Homo sapiens: one gene and its partners. The protein of the gene in region 1 purifies or fractionates together with the protein of each later gene. This does not show direct contact. Each region holds a gene or a part of one and is shown on either strand. Other genes may lie near its edges.

What was found. Proteins that work in one complex are often made in the same cells at the same time.
Region 2: the proteins of SEPTIN11 (region 1) and PRCC purify together in Homo sapiens (affinity purification with mass spectrometry, with the first as the bait; one large-scale study listed by BioGRID). This does not show direct contact.
Region 3: the proteins of SEPTIN11 (region 1) and SMARCA2 fractionate together in Homo sapiens (co-fractionation; one large-scale study listed by BioGRID). This does not show direct contact.
Region 4: the proteins of SEPTIN11 (region 1) and RAP1GDS1 purify together in Homo sapiens (co-immunoprecipitation; one large-scale study listed by IntAct). This does not show direct contact.

Annotation. Positions count from the first base shown.
Region 1 is NC_000004.12:77,029,436-77,033,524, reverse strand, and holds part of SEPTIN11 (septin-11), read right to left. Parts: intron 2,743-4,089; coding exon 2,555-2,742; intron 1-2,554. UniProt on the Homo sapiens protein: Filament-forming cytoskeletal GTPase. May play a role in cytokinesis. May play a role in the cytoarchitecture of neurons, including dendritic arborization and dendritic spines, and in GABAergic synaptic connectivity.
Region 2 is NC_000001.11:156,784,535-156,788,034, reverse strand, and holds part of PRCC (proline-rich protein PRCC), read right to left. Parts: intron 1,428-3,500; coding exon 861-1,427; intron 1-860. UniProt on the Homo sapiens protein: May regulate cell cycle progression through interaction with MAD2L2.
Region 3 is NC_000009.12:2,018,347-2,021,846, forward strand, and holds part of SMARCA2 (SWI/SNF-related matrix-associated actin-dependent regulator of chromatin subfamily A member 2), read left to right. Parts: intron 1-3,500. UniProt on the Homo sapiens protein: ATPase involved in transcriptional activation and repression of select genes by chromatin remodeling (alteration of DNA-nucleosome topology).
Region 4 is NC_000004.12:98,264,384-98,267,883, forward strand, and holds part of RAP1GDS1 (rap1 GTPase-GDP dissociation stimulator 1), read left to right. Parts: intron 1-3,500. UniProt on the Homo sapiens protein: Acts as a GEF (guanine nucleotide exchange factor) for the Rho family of small GTP-binding proteins (G proteins) that stimulates the dissociation of GDP to enable subsequent binding of GTP.

The sequences.
Region 1 (4,089 bases):
AGGAAATGTTATACACTCTCATGCCACTACAGGTCAAGGAGAAGTATAAAGCCTTACCTACATTAAAAAAGGAGCGTGTCATTAGAACAGAAAAAAGAGAATTTAAAACTATTAGAAAAACTAAGTTAGGCTTGGAGGTGGAAGCATAGCAGGTAAATAAGTAAGCATCTGCCTTTTCATTTTCTACCTATAACAAAGTCAGTTCCTGAATGGCAACTCCCACATCTGTTCCAGCTATGCTAGGAGGCATCTTCCCAGCTCTTTTCAAAGTGCTGCTCTGTCTAGCCTGGCCACTGTCTTTCTGCGGTCCCTCTAACCAAAACACTCCACTACCACTGGCAGTAAGAGGTGTGATTTTTTTTTTTCTTGGACATTTCAGGCCTCCACTGGCAGTTGCTTTCACTGTACAAATGTAAAGTGTGGAAAAGGGTAAGGACCTAGAAAAAGTTATACAAAAAATATGTGCCATTGTCAGGTGCAAAACCTGGCGACTACTCTGAACCAAATTAAGTATAATATCCTTCAAAATAAATGAGAATATATAAATAAGCTAAAATAGAATCCACACAGGCTTCATAGAAACTTTGAAAGCATTACACATTGGTAAGGCCCCAGGATAGGAAGAAAATAACCTAACATGTTCAAAAGGGCAAGGAAAAACCTCCCTACACTGGGAAGTTTGTTACTAAATAAACTTTTCTAAAATGGAAGCACAATAATGATCAGCTCTTGGAATTTTTATTGCTTAAAGGCACGTCTAGTATACACGAAATACTCTTTTAACATTGCTGGTCTTTTGGAAACATTCTTAGTTTTAAAACTTGAACCTTTATGCACTGAGTGCCTCAGGGTGAAAAGAAAAACTTGACTTTGCATTTCCTAAGCTGTAAGTCAGCAGCTTTTTGTCTCATTCATACCTATAGATGTATGTGTACACACACACAAACACACACACACAGACACATACACACCCCTATATCCTTGGTTAGTTTAGCTTGGATTAACAAAGGTACAATGCCCAATGGCTTTCATCTGTCTTCACTGGAAGAGTCACTGTAATCTGAGTCTCTGCATGGGAAACATCACCATTAGTGTTAGATGCTCTCCCGACATGCATAGCTACAAAGGGTTTTCTTAGATTATAATCTATGTGCTTGTTACTCTCAGAATTAATCCAGCATAACTAAATTTTGGGCCTTGAACTCCTTTGGTCACTTGGATCTGTGCCAACTCCAAATAAAATCACAACCATTTCAATTATTGTTCAGAACATTTGCCTCCTCCCTTGCTCTGGTGATACATTTTCTGCTGTCTCAGAGCTCAGAATGTCAGTTTGTAAAGCATGATTTAAAACTCTCTCAGTATGTCATTGTAGCAGTCCATTTTTATTTTTACTGCAGGCAACATGAGATTCCTTAGGGGTGAGCCTACTGCACATTCACCAAGACTAAGTGGACAATAGCACTGTGCTCACTTTTCCCTATAACACATCTCAATTATTGTGCAGAGACTTGATCCTATGTACTCTATGTTTAAAGAATGTAATTCTTTATGTGCTTGAGCATCAATGTTTTTACATATGGTCAGCTTTTTCCCTAGAACCTTGGCATGTAAGGCGAAAGAGCAACACTTCCTGAAACAAGTTCTGAGTTGCTTTATATTAAATAGCTGCCCTAAAGCACCGTACATTAGACAAAGGAGGGTGGCATCTGCATATTTGTCATTGAGACACCACAAAGGTTTTCGTTAGTGGTATTCTTACCATCGTGCTTCCTGTCAAAACCGATAGCATTGACATAAAACTAGGCTTTATGATGATTCAAAGGAGAGCTTCAAATCACAGGAGAATGTCAAGGGAGGCCTAAATCTCCCACTGGTTTCAGGCAGCTGCTACTGGAGTATCACAGGAAGTGACCAACTCAAGAGCAGAATCTGACCCTTTGGCACATGACATTAAGACCCTATTTAAAAAAAACCTTTTATGAATGGGTTTAGGTTTGGCTTGAGGTTGGCAGAGGTGTCAACTGGATAGGCATTTGGATCCCATTTCACAATAAAACAATTCATCATATTGAATTTTGAGGAAACTAGTGGCCACTAGCAGCTCTTCCAAATGTTTCATTTTGGGAACGAGAATTTCAGTGACTGGCTTACGAAGTCTTACAACACAGAATAGGAAAATAATTTTAACAATTGTGATTTTAGGATGCTCTCTATCAAGAGTCATGAGAATTGTCTTCAGAGGGTGCTGAAGAGACATCAACCTGTCTTCTTTGAGACTCCTAGTGTTGGTGTGGAAGATGCTACTGGAGACAACAGGTTCCTCCAGGCCTGATTGCTTGGTCAATTGTGGTAAAGTTTTATAAATTAATCTTTGTGTACCTTTTAAAAAAATTTAAAAACCTTCATCATCTTCCCTGCACTGTAGAGAAAATACTTGCTTTTATCTTTCTGGTAAAGGACCAGTTTCCAGTCTGTAAATGGGAAAAGTAGAGACATGCAAGAGGAATAAATTGTTAGAGGTCCCCGATACAGGGGGGTGACACCTGCTTACTTTTTCTTATCCTTGTCTTTCTTGGTTTGCTGGGCCCCAGATTGCTGGGCCTGGGACTGTAGTAACTGAGCCGCTGCTTTCTTCTTCTGGAAGTTGTTCACCTCCTCCTCAAGCTCCTTCTTCTTGTCTTCCACTTTCTTCTTTTCTTCTTGGTGTGTCCGCTTTAGAAGGTCAAACTTCTCGTGAAGCTGGAGAGAAAAAGAAAACAGGCTTGGTGAATGGAATGAAAATCCTTTTGATGTAAAGTTCTTTGGATCTGTTCAAAAAACAAAACATGGCCAGGCACGGTGGCTCACGCCTGTAATTTCAGCACTTTGGGAGGCCGAGGTGGGTGGATCACGAGGTCAGGAGTTCAAGACCAGCCTGGCCAAGATGGTGAAACCCCATCTCTACTAAAAATACAAAAATTAGCCAGGCGTGGTGGCGGGTGCCTGTAATCCCTGCTACTCAAGAGGCTGAGGCAGAGAATTGCTTGAACCTGGGAGGCGGAGGTTGCAGTGAGCTGAGATCGTACCACTGCACTCCAGCCTGGGTGACAGAGACTCCGTCTCAAAAGAAAATAAAAGAAAACAAACAAATATGTGTCATGTGGCTGCACTGGCTTTAATACAGGTGTAAAGTACCATTTTGCTGACTTCCTGGAGGAGCTGAGCTGGGATGCTGAAGAGCATCCCTCAGAGTCCCAGACTCCTGTGACACTAGAACTCCTTGGGACTAAAAATTCCTTCGCTCTGTTGCCCAGGCTGGAGAGTAGTGACACAATCTCAGCTCACTGCAACCTCTGTCTCCTGGGTTCAAGCAATTCTCCTGCTTCAGCCTCTCGAGTAGCTGGGATTATGGGCATGCGCCACCACACCCAGCTAATTTTTGTATCTTTAGTAGAGACGGGGTTTCACCATTTGCCCAGGCTGGTCTCGAACTCCTGACCTCGTGATCCTCCCACCTTGGCATCCCAAGGTGCTGGGATTACAGGCGTGAACCACTGCACCTGGCCAAAAATAATTATGATCCCAACAAAAAACTCACCCTAGTGGTAAAAGTGGTTCTTTACCTCTGGTCCTTTTTCGAAATGTATAAAAAACATTTACTTAGAAATATATACAATGACTACATATATGTATGTGTTTGTATATATATACACATATATATGTGTATGTATATATGTGTGTATATGTGTGTGTATATATATGTGTGTGTGTGTGTATATATATATATATGCATTATGTATTAGCTACTTAAATAATGTGTTGGGAAATTTCTGGCCCTTGAGGGAAGGAAGGGGAAGAAGAAAAGCAAAGGAAGAAGAAAGAAAATGAAAAAGAAAAGGAAAGGAAGGAATTCTAGACAATTTTAGATTTTTTACCCAGCATCCCCTTGGTTCTTGAAGCCAACAGCAAATAAGGCTCAACTTTCTCTGCAGCAAAACCATCTTGAGTGCTTAGCTATTTAAATAGCCTCTAAATTTCAGTAGTTTTTAGACAAAATAAATTAAAACAAGAAAACGAGGAAATTTATTTAAATGATTTCACTTAGAA
Region 2 (3,500 bases), on another chromosome or scaffold:
GTGAAACCCCGTCTCTACTAAAAATACAAAAATTAAATTAGCGGGCATGGTGGAATGTGCCTGTAGTCCCAGCTATTTGGGAGGCTGAGGTGGGAGAGTTGCTTGAACCTGGGAGGCGGAGGTTGCAGTGAGTCAAGATCGTGCCACTGCACTCCAGCCTGGGCAACAGAGCAAGACTCCGTCTCAAAAAATATAAAATACAAATACAAAAATTAGCTGGGCATGTTAGGGTGGCACACATCTGTAGTCCCAGCTACTCGGGAGGCTGAGGCAGGAGAATCACTTGAACTCGGGAGGCAGAGGTTGCAGCTGAGCCAAGATTGTGCCACTGCACTCCAGCCTGGGCAACAGAGTGAGATTCCTTCTCCAAAAAAAAAAAAAAAAGGCCAAAAACCTACCTATCAGGTACTATGCTCATCACCTGGGGTGACAAAATAATCTGTACACCAAACCCGTGACATGCAATTTACCCATGTAACAAACCTGTACATGTACCTCCTGAACCTAAAATAAAGGTTAGGAAGAAAAAAAAACAGATATATATATATATATATATATATATATATATATATATATATATATATCAATCACAAATATGTACAAATATTATGGATCAATAAAAAATAAATAGATTGTTTTCAGAATAAAGATGTCATTTATGTGGTTCACCCTGTCACACTTTAAGACTTGGGCAATTTAGATTAATATGGTTCAGAATAAAGGTATGTTCTGTGGCCTAATAAATAGAGAAGGTTAATTTAGCCAAAGTGACACCACAGAGGCTGTATCACTAGCTCAAAGCTCTCCTTGACCACCATGTTCCAACATTCCCTCGCCTGCCCTCTGTGCCTCCTACCCACCTGATAATAAGCACCAGCGGCATTGGCATCGCCATATGTGGAAAACTGATTGTAGCTGTAGTCGTCCCCAGGCTTAGGCATCCAAGGGGCCCCACTTGAACCTGCTGCCATCTTGAATTCAAGGGGGGCATTGGCTGCATCGTCCTGGAAAGCCGGCTCTGGTTCCGTGCCTGGAGGCAGCTCTTCAGGGACAGTGGGGATGGGGTAAGGGTATGGCTCAACTCCAGGTGGCTCAGCCTTTTCAGGGAGGGAGAAAAAGTTTTCGGGGGCTACTTCCTCATCACTGTCGTCTTCTTCCTGCGTGATCTGCTTTGTCACCTGCAGGGCAGCACTCTTGGCAGCAGCCTTGATAGCAGAGGGCGACGGAGTGGTGGTTGTGGTGCCCACAACAGGGGCAAGAGAGGAAGTCTTGGTCTTAGAAGCCAGTCTGGAGGGCTTAGTATCAGGGGAGCCATCCGAGGGTTTGCGGGAGAAGGCATGGGGCAGGAGCAACCTGTTAGTCTCTTTCACAGTCAGGTTTTTAGGTTGGGGAAGCAAGGCAGACAAACCAGTCCCCTCACTGGATCCCTGGTGAGCCCAGGTGTGGGATAGGAGGAAAGAAAGATGACAAGTGAGATTTTATGTACTAGCAACACCAAAAACAACAGTTACAGATAAGTTCTCTAGCCTAAAATCTTACCAGCCCTTGTTTCTTCCTTACCTCCGTCCACTCAGACCACCTAATCTGGGCTTGACTCCTGCTACTTCAGGCCTTTCTGCGGGCTGCTTCTCCCAAGGTGAGGTATCATTCCTCTTCTCTTCCATCCCAACCCAGCTCCACTGCCCTCTTCCACAGAGCGAGCCTTCCTCAACTCTGTGTCTTCAACAAATACGATGCTCTTAACCTCACATCGTCCTTCCTCCCCAAAAGCCCAGGTCTCTCCAGCTCATCACTCAACCTCTCTCCGTGTCCTGAAGGGACCTCTTAACACAAGAACCCTCTCCTTCCTTTGGAATGCTACCCAAAATCAAGAACAAGGTTCTGTCTAAAAGAAACATTCATACTGTTGCAAAAGTCCCTTCCCGGCTGGGCAGTGGTGGCTCACGCCTGTAATCCCAGCACTTTGGGAGACCAAGGTGGGCGGATCATGAGGTCAGGAGTTTGAGACCAGCCTGACCAACATACTGAAGGCCCGTCTCTATTAAAAATACAAAAATTAGCCAGGCATGGTGGTGGGTGCCTGTAATCTCAGCTACTTGGGAGGCTGAGGCAGAAGAATCGCTTGAACCCAGGAAGCGGAGGTTGCAGTGAGCCGAGATCATGCCACTGTACTCCAGCTTGGGTGACAGAGTGAGACCCCTTCTCAAAAAAAAAAAAAAGTCCCTTCCCCTGACCAAGGGAGAAAGCTAACCCTGAGCGAGACCCCTCAGCAGCGCTAATGACGCCTAGGAAAGAGTGGAGGCCCAGCACGTTCAACAAGGAAGCAGTGAGTCCAGAGACTGCAAGGGGCCTGACACAGCTTTTTCCAACCCTTTAAATTGCTCTCCTTGTCACCATCCCCAAAGCAAAGGAAACAGGATTTCCTTTCTCTTTTTTTTCCCCCCCTTAGATAGGAACCTGAAGCCTCAGCTTGGGTGGGGCAGCTCCCTTAGGACTTAAGTGCTAAGGGTATTTTTTTTTTTTGGTCGGAGTCTCGCTCTATCACCCAGGATGGAGTGCAGTGACATGATCTTGGCTCACTGCAACCTCCGCCTCCCAGGTTCAAGCAATTCTCTGCCTCAGCCTCCCGAGTAGCTGGGATTATAGGTGCTCACCACCACGCATGCCTGGCTAATTTTTGTATTTTTAGTAGAGACGGGGTTTTACCATCTTGGCCAGGCTGGTCTTCAACACCTGACCTTATGATCCACCCACCTCGGCCTCCCAAAGTGCTGGGATTACAGGCATGAGCCACAGCGCCCGGCCTAAGGGTATTTTTTACTTAAGACCATAGAATTCTACATTAGCTGACTGAAAGGGTTTTTATAAGATCATCTTCAGTTCTTTTCAGACTTACTCAGCTTGCAAATTTCCCTAATCTAAGACATTACTGCTTTTTACAAAAATATGTAATTTTAGTATCTTTAGTGCCATCATACATACAGAGGTAGTTTTGTCAGCCAGAAATGAGTGTATATATATATATGCTGTATTTTTTTAATCTGAAGAAAGTCCCCTACCCTACCCAAGGAAAGCCCTATAGATGTGGCATATTAGCTTGTTAATGCCAGAGTCAAGCATTTAACTTTTGATCTGTAAGCTCACTGGCCCAGCCCATCCAGAGTTCCTATTACCCAAAAGAATCTCTCAGATTCTGCTTTCTCTATGCTAAAAGGCCCGTTTGGCCTAACTGTAGAGCTAAGGGAAATGCCAATTGGAAAAGGAGAATGGAATAAGGTCACTGTGTCACTGTCTTAGAGTACTAGTGTACTCCAGCCTTCTCAGCCAAGAAATGCCCAGAGTAAATAAGACATTTGAGTCAAGCCACACAGAACTGCTCATGTGGAGACTGGGCTCTTCTTGCTGTGTGTGTGTTCACAGATTTGGTCCAGCCTGGAAGCGCCCAGAGGCTCCGGTTCATAGGAACCACACTGAGGTACAGGGCGGAGCACACCCTCAGG
Region 3 (3,500 bases), on another chromosome or scaffold:
AGGTTGTCTCTTTTTTTTCCTCCTCCCTAACCTGATGGAGGTTGGTGCTTTGGAAAAAGCAAAGCGACCTGGGCTAGTAATCTTTTGGAGAGGTGTCATCATTGTCTCCTTTCTGGTCATTATGTAGGCATGTATGACTTTGTATGTGTACTGTTAGAGCTCAAGGAAGACATTAAGGATACACAGTTTGTTGACTGCACTGAGCGGTTATTTTTAACATTTCTGCGTTACCAATATCGAATTTCAAACTTCCATTTCAAAGGACTTAAAATTTACACCTGGTTGTGTGCCTTGCTTGTCTGAACAGAATGCTTGCATAAATAATGAGATTGTTGCTTGGGCGTTGAGTAGCAGAAAATTTCTATCCAACCACCAAAGACTCAGAAACCATTGAGAACCCTAATAATAATTTAAAAAGCCATACCCAATGTTATGTGTGTGTATACTTACATATTCACATTCAAATATTTTCAGTAGTATTTTCCATCTGTTATCAGGGGGGCCACAACCAGAAGCTTGTTGGCCAGCATTGGAGTTTTAGGCTTCCAGGCTACCTCTAGCACACTGGTGAAGTGTTAAGAGGCGTGGCAGATTTGAATCCTAGTTGCTGCATTGTTATGCAAAATGAGACACACTTTTTCTTTGAGGAATCTAATTGCTCTTTTATTCTCTTGGACTTTCTTTCTTTTTTTCCTCAAATGCTTCTTTACAATGCAAATGTTTGCTATTGTAAAGAGGGGATTTAGAGACACCTGTTAGGTCCAAAAGATACTTATTGCGGTAGACTGAGGGGAAAAAAAAAAACAACCCAGTAGATCAGAGGTCCGTCTACCTTGGGGGCATCAGAGAGATGCCATTTTTGTAAAGAACATTTCAAATGAATGAGGAATGTGGGGTATCAGAACCCTTGAAGAGGGTGAGGGGAGGGAGGGCTTCCTTCAATGCAGCCTTTCTCTTATGACTTATATCAGTAACAGCCCAGCATCAGGACTAGGTGCACTGTGGTGTTTCACAGAAAATATTCACCACAAGAGCATGTTCAAAGCAGCCTTAGATCTTTTCTTTTGTTCGTTTGTAAAGTGGTTTTTGAGCATTTCTCGTCAAGTTTCTTGAAAAGTGCTTTGACCAACACCTGAGGCTTAGAATTGACAAAAAAAAAAAAAAAAAAGTGCCTCGGCTTGTATTATATTGTTAATGCTTGAATTCTATTTAAAGTATTCCTGACATGGTATAACTAGAAAGTGACACTTGTGCAGATAAGTATTTAAAATTTTTTTCTTTTATTAAGTTTAAGATAAATCATTCTACAGGCCAGTATAAAAGCATATCACATCCTTTTCTAAAAGGTAATTGTGATGCTCCTTATATTGTTGTAATATTTTGACATTTATTATTATGTATTACAGCAAGAGCATAAAAAGAAGAGTTTTATAAATTATAAAAGTGGTGCTGTCCTCCAGTGTTTTCTTGTTTTTTTTTTTTCTCCTTTAGAAATCTTCCTTTGTAAACAAGGCCTTTGTCAAACTCTTCTAGGTCAGCAGCTTTTTGATACCCCAGAGAAATAATAAATCACTATTTATGACATCTTGACATGGTGCCATGAGGACAACTGAATTATCACATATGTAATACTAAGGACTGTTTCCCAGCATTTGCAAGTGGAAGGAGTGTTGGTAGGACCTGATTTAACCACTTTAAGATTTGATTCTGTTTCTGGTCAAGATGATTTAAGGGACGATAGGGACAAATTCTTTGGTTAACTTGAGTTACCTTAGAAAACTATATGAGTTACATTTCTTTTCTGCTGTATTTCTTGTGAACAGATGAGAAAATTTCCCTAGTATGAAAGCCACATTTAGGGGCTATTTCTGATTTCTCCTTTTTAATGTAAAAGAATTATCTTCTAAATTGTTTTTTTTTCCCCCTTAAATATTGTGTTTTGGAGATGTCTTTGGCCAATAGAGGATGTGAATTTTCTGTCATTTTTGGAAGCGTTCTTATTAGGGGACTCTAACCTTTAGCCGGTTAATAAAGCCATGGGTCATTCGCTAAGTAGTGAATAGAAAATACACATGGTGGTAATTTATTTGATAGCATATTTAGGAAGGCCTGGAGTGATTATTTTTTCTATATAGAAACTTATGACTTTATACTTACTAGGGACTATAGGAGTCTAAAACTATGTTCTGCCAGAGTCATTATGAAAGAGAGCATATTTATTTACGTAAGATATTTATCATTAAGTTAAATGGGATCTTGCAACCTGGGCTGGCAAAACTGCAGCTTTCTTACTGTTTATTATGAGTTTATTATTACCCATGTTAATATAGCACTTTTCCTTGAAAGTGTAGGATATGTTAAAGAGAGCTTTTAAGTAGTAAAAGTTATAAATATATCGTCAAAGATGCTTGAATAATTGTACCTCAGAAAAACATACAATAGAGCCAATGAAATTCAGGAACAAAATAGCTGGTCTTTTGAATGTTTGATATAAACACCTCATTAATTTACACATTTGGAGTGATGGTTTAGATATGGAATACAAGATTTTGGCCTGAAACTCTGACATAATGTCCTTCTGGACTTCTGGGTTTGTAATACATTATTATATAATTGAAGCCTAGTATGAATTAGGATATTTTATTAGATAGCTACGACTTCCAGAATATTTGAACAATTGTAATCTGGCCGTATACCTGTAAGATTTACAACAGTTTTTAAAACCACAATATTCTATAGTATTTTTAGGTGGATTAGTATCAATTTAAGCATCAATCTTATGCCAGTATGTCATCTACATCTATGCAAGCAGTAATATTTTAGAAACTTTTTAGAAACTGGCCTAATTTAAATATGGGCTGGCCCTTTTGTAAGTTGATGAATGGGACCCACAGAAGTTGAAATAATATTTAAAGTTTGAAAACCATTAAATATAATTGAAACTCCCTCCTTTAAAAAAAACAAAAACAACTAAACTCAGAATTTGGAATTCAAAATTACTTAAAAATGATAAAAATCTCTAACCAAAAAGGAACGTCATATGTTGGCTTACAGGTTATCCAAGGGAAATTCTGTATCAGTTTGCACTTAAACTGTATTTTTCTGGTTCAGGATGATTATATATTTCTTTACCTACTTGATGTGGTATATTTCAGTTTTTACCATCCCACTGGGAGATGCTTTATCACACATGGATATTGGATGTCCAGAAGGAAAGCCCTCTCCCATCTTCCCCCCTGTGCTTTGTTGAACTGGACATGTAATAAATGGCTTTGCAAATAGTCACAATTATTTTGTGGCTTGCTGTTGTGCTATACTAAAAGACCATTAAGCAGAGTCCAAAATTCTGTAAAAAATAGATGATCTGTAATTGATAATTTATGTGTCTTAAAGAATGTACCTGAACATTTAATATTGTATTTATAATAGCATATTGAATACAAGTAACAAATGGTAAACTGCATGGGCCATGTGATACAGAGAGAGAGATCAGGGTGAGC
Region 4 (3,500 bases), about 21 Mb from region 1:
GAAACTCTGTCTCAAAAAAAATATATATATATATTCTCATGGCAATAATTTCCTACACAAGAGAGTGAAAGAAAAGTCCTATATAACTTTATGGCCATAGCTACTATTTTATGTATATGTCATATTTCAGATTCAACATACATTTAGTGTTTGTTGGATATCAACTGTGCAGTGTACTGTACTACAGTGTACTGGGAGGACAAAGATAAAAAGATATTCATGTTTCACATTTATAATCTTAGCAGGAACAATATGACACATACACAAATTATAATAGAAGTAAAAGTATAAGTTATATAAAAGACCTTTACATATATTATAGATTCAGAGAATGGAGAGAACGTTTTAGAGAAATGGTGTTATTTGAACCAAAGGTGGGTTAAACTTCTTAAAGGTAGAAATGAGACTGTTAATCAGAATGGAGTTGGTCTGGGGTTGGAAGAGAAATGACATAAATGAAGATAGATAGGAAACATTTTATGAATTTCCAGGATATGATTAAACAGCATTGTTTGGCTAGAGCAAAAGGTAAGGAAATAGTGGGTAACAGACATGAAAAAGTAGTACAGTAATAGCTAATGACCAGATAATGTAGGATCTAAAATGCCAAGCTGAAGAATTTTAATCTGACTTACCTATTGAGAGACCACTAAACATTTTTATGTAGTTAAGTGATGGATCACATCTGTGGTATAGGAAAATTTGTCAGTTGAGTGCAGGATCGATTAGATGAGAAACTACAGAACACTTCAGAAGATTGTTGTTGGAGTTTGGACGAAAATGTTTAATGGCTTGAACCAGGTTATGGCAACGGGAATAGAATATTGCAAATAAAGAATAGGATTTACTTGGCAACCCATTGAGTATGGAATTGAGAGTCACAGGTTTTAGCCTGGGTGATAATGAGGATACGAGAATCTCCTGATACATATTCAGTTAACAGGAAGAGGAAACTTAGATACTCAATTTTGGACCTATTGCATTAGACTTTTTGGTCTGTCCTTTAGTCTCTGCTCCTTGATAACAAGGACGTTGTCATATTAGGATTTGAATACATTTCTAACACTAGTGTCTGGCACATAGTAGCTACATAGAAAAATTGTGTTGACTGACTGAAACTAGATAAAAAATAGTTGACAAACATTTATTTTAACTTTCGAGAGTACAATTTGAATTAGAGATCTGGAAGTTATCCACAAATATCCTGAGGTGATATTTGAAGTTAGATCAGAGGACAAGAGTCAACAAAGAAAAAGAGGAAAATTGTTCATGGTAAGAATCTTGAGGAATGGGGTTCCTTAAGTTTTCCGTAGTTAGGGAAAAAGGAATGGTATGATTTCACACTGAAAAACACAGAAGTCAGAGTGAAAGACTAGAATTGGTATATGGTTGGTTTTAAGAAAGAGTGAATAGTTAATAAGGTCTGTTTTTTCAGAACAGTCAGGAGGGTGATAGGGACTGAGAACAGGCTCTAAGTGCTTTGGTTAGGATATTACCCAGTATATTTTTCTAAAAAGCCACTTTAAGAGGTTTAGTAGATATGGAGGTCAGTTGTAAAGGCTAAGTGAATAATAAGTGGAAACAGTTCACTAGGTATAGTCATGCTGTATTTCTCACCTTGTTTAAAGATCTGTGAGAAAACATAGATTTTTAAAAATATTTTTAACTCACTCTGCATGACAGATATTACATTTTAGAAAATATTTTAAAATTTTAAATGTATTTTAATTTACAAATTAAAAAAATTATTTTAATGTTACATTTTACATGGAAGGACATGTGCTGTTTTCATGTCTAAGGATAATTTTTAATTTCACCATAGTGCCTCACATTTCTCTGACATTTCATTTTTAATGTCTTTGTGACTTAGTATAGTACAATTTTTATTTTTATAATGTCTGTCATGCAGAGTGAGTCTAGAATGATTTTATAATTTTGCATGGCATTTTGCCTAAACAATACTCTTTACTGATGAATGGTTTTATCACTTTTACTCTTAGACTTTGTGAATTTGAGACTTCTTTAGATTATAGGTATGCTTCTAATTATATTTTTAATTCCTGGAGTTGTAGTTTTCTCTGTAGATAGGTATCAAACTTATAGTCATTTTATTTTGCCTGTATTTCCAAGTCCAGGAATGGTTTTCATAGCTAAATAATAAATACTAATTTTGCCTGATCTTTGCAAGTCTAGGCAGGGTGATAAAATATTTTTGAAAGCTGGTAATTACTAAAATTTATGATTTCAAAAAAGCATAGATGCTAGCTTGGTAAATTTAAAAATTTTTCTTATGTTGGCATTATATCTGTTTTGTATATGTCTTTTTTCATATGGGAGAAAGGTTGAATTCACTATCCTTGGTAGTCATATTCTGAAGTCTGTACTACTACTATTTGAAAAATTATAATAGCCTTAACTCTTTTTAAGAACCAAAATGATTTTGCTTTCATAGTGGAATCTTGGAATTTCTAGGTGACTTTGGGGAAATAGTGTGGATGCTCTCCAGAAATTCCTGATTGAACCTGAGATTGAACATAGCAATTCTGGAGTTATTGGTGGCACTAACAACAGCCATCAGAATTACCTAAATTTTAATATCCAGTCATGAACATCAGGAGGAATGAAGGAGGAAGATTCAGTCCTTTGGGAACCTGATGTAATTTTAGATAGCCAAATGTTTGGATAACTGATAAGGAAAAAGTTTAATTTAAAATACATGTTGATGTTGAGTTCAGTTTGCCAGTATTTTGTTGAGGATTTTTCTATTTATGTTTATTAAGGATATTAGCTTGTAGTTTCTTTTCTTGTAGTATCATTGTCTGGCTTTGGTATCAGGGTAATGCTGGCCTCATTAAATGAGTTTGGAAGTATTTCCCTTCATTGTTTGGAAAGAGTTTGAGGAGGATTGGTATTAGTTCCTTTTTTAAAATAATTTCAACTTTTAGTTTAGGTTCAGAGGGTACATGTGCATGTTTTTTACATGGGCATGTTATGTGACACTTTGGAGTATGAATAATCCCATCACCCAGGGGTTTGGAGTATGAATAATCCCATCACCCAGGTAGTGTGCATGGTACCCAGTGGGTAGTTTTTCAGCCCTTGCCTCCCTCCATTTGTCCCCCTCTAGTAGTCCCCAGTATCTGTTGTTCCCATCTTTATGTCCATATGTACACCCAGTGCTTAGCTTCCGCTTATAAATGAGAACATGTGGTATTTGGATTTCTTGTTTCTATGTTAATTTGCTTAGGATAGTGGCCTCCAGCTCCATCCATGTTGCTGCAAAGGACATGATTTCATTCTTTTTTGTGGGTGCATAGTATTCCATGGTATATATGTGTCACATTTTCTTTATCCAATCCACTATTGATAGGCACCTGGGTTGTTTTCATGTCTTTGTTATTGTGAATAGTGCTGCGATGAAGATCCAAGAGCATGTGCCTTTTTGGTAGCATGATTTATTTTTCTCTGGAAATATACCCAGTAATGGGATGGCTGGGTCA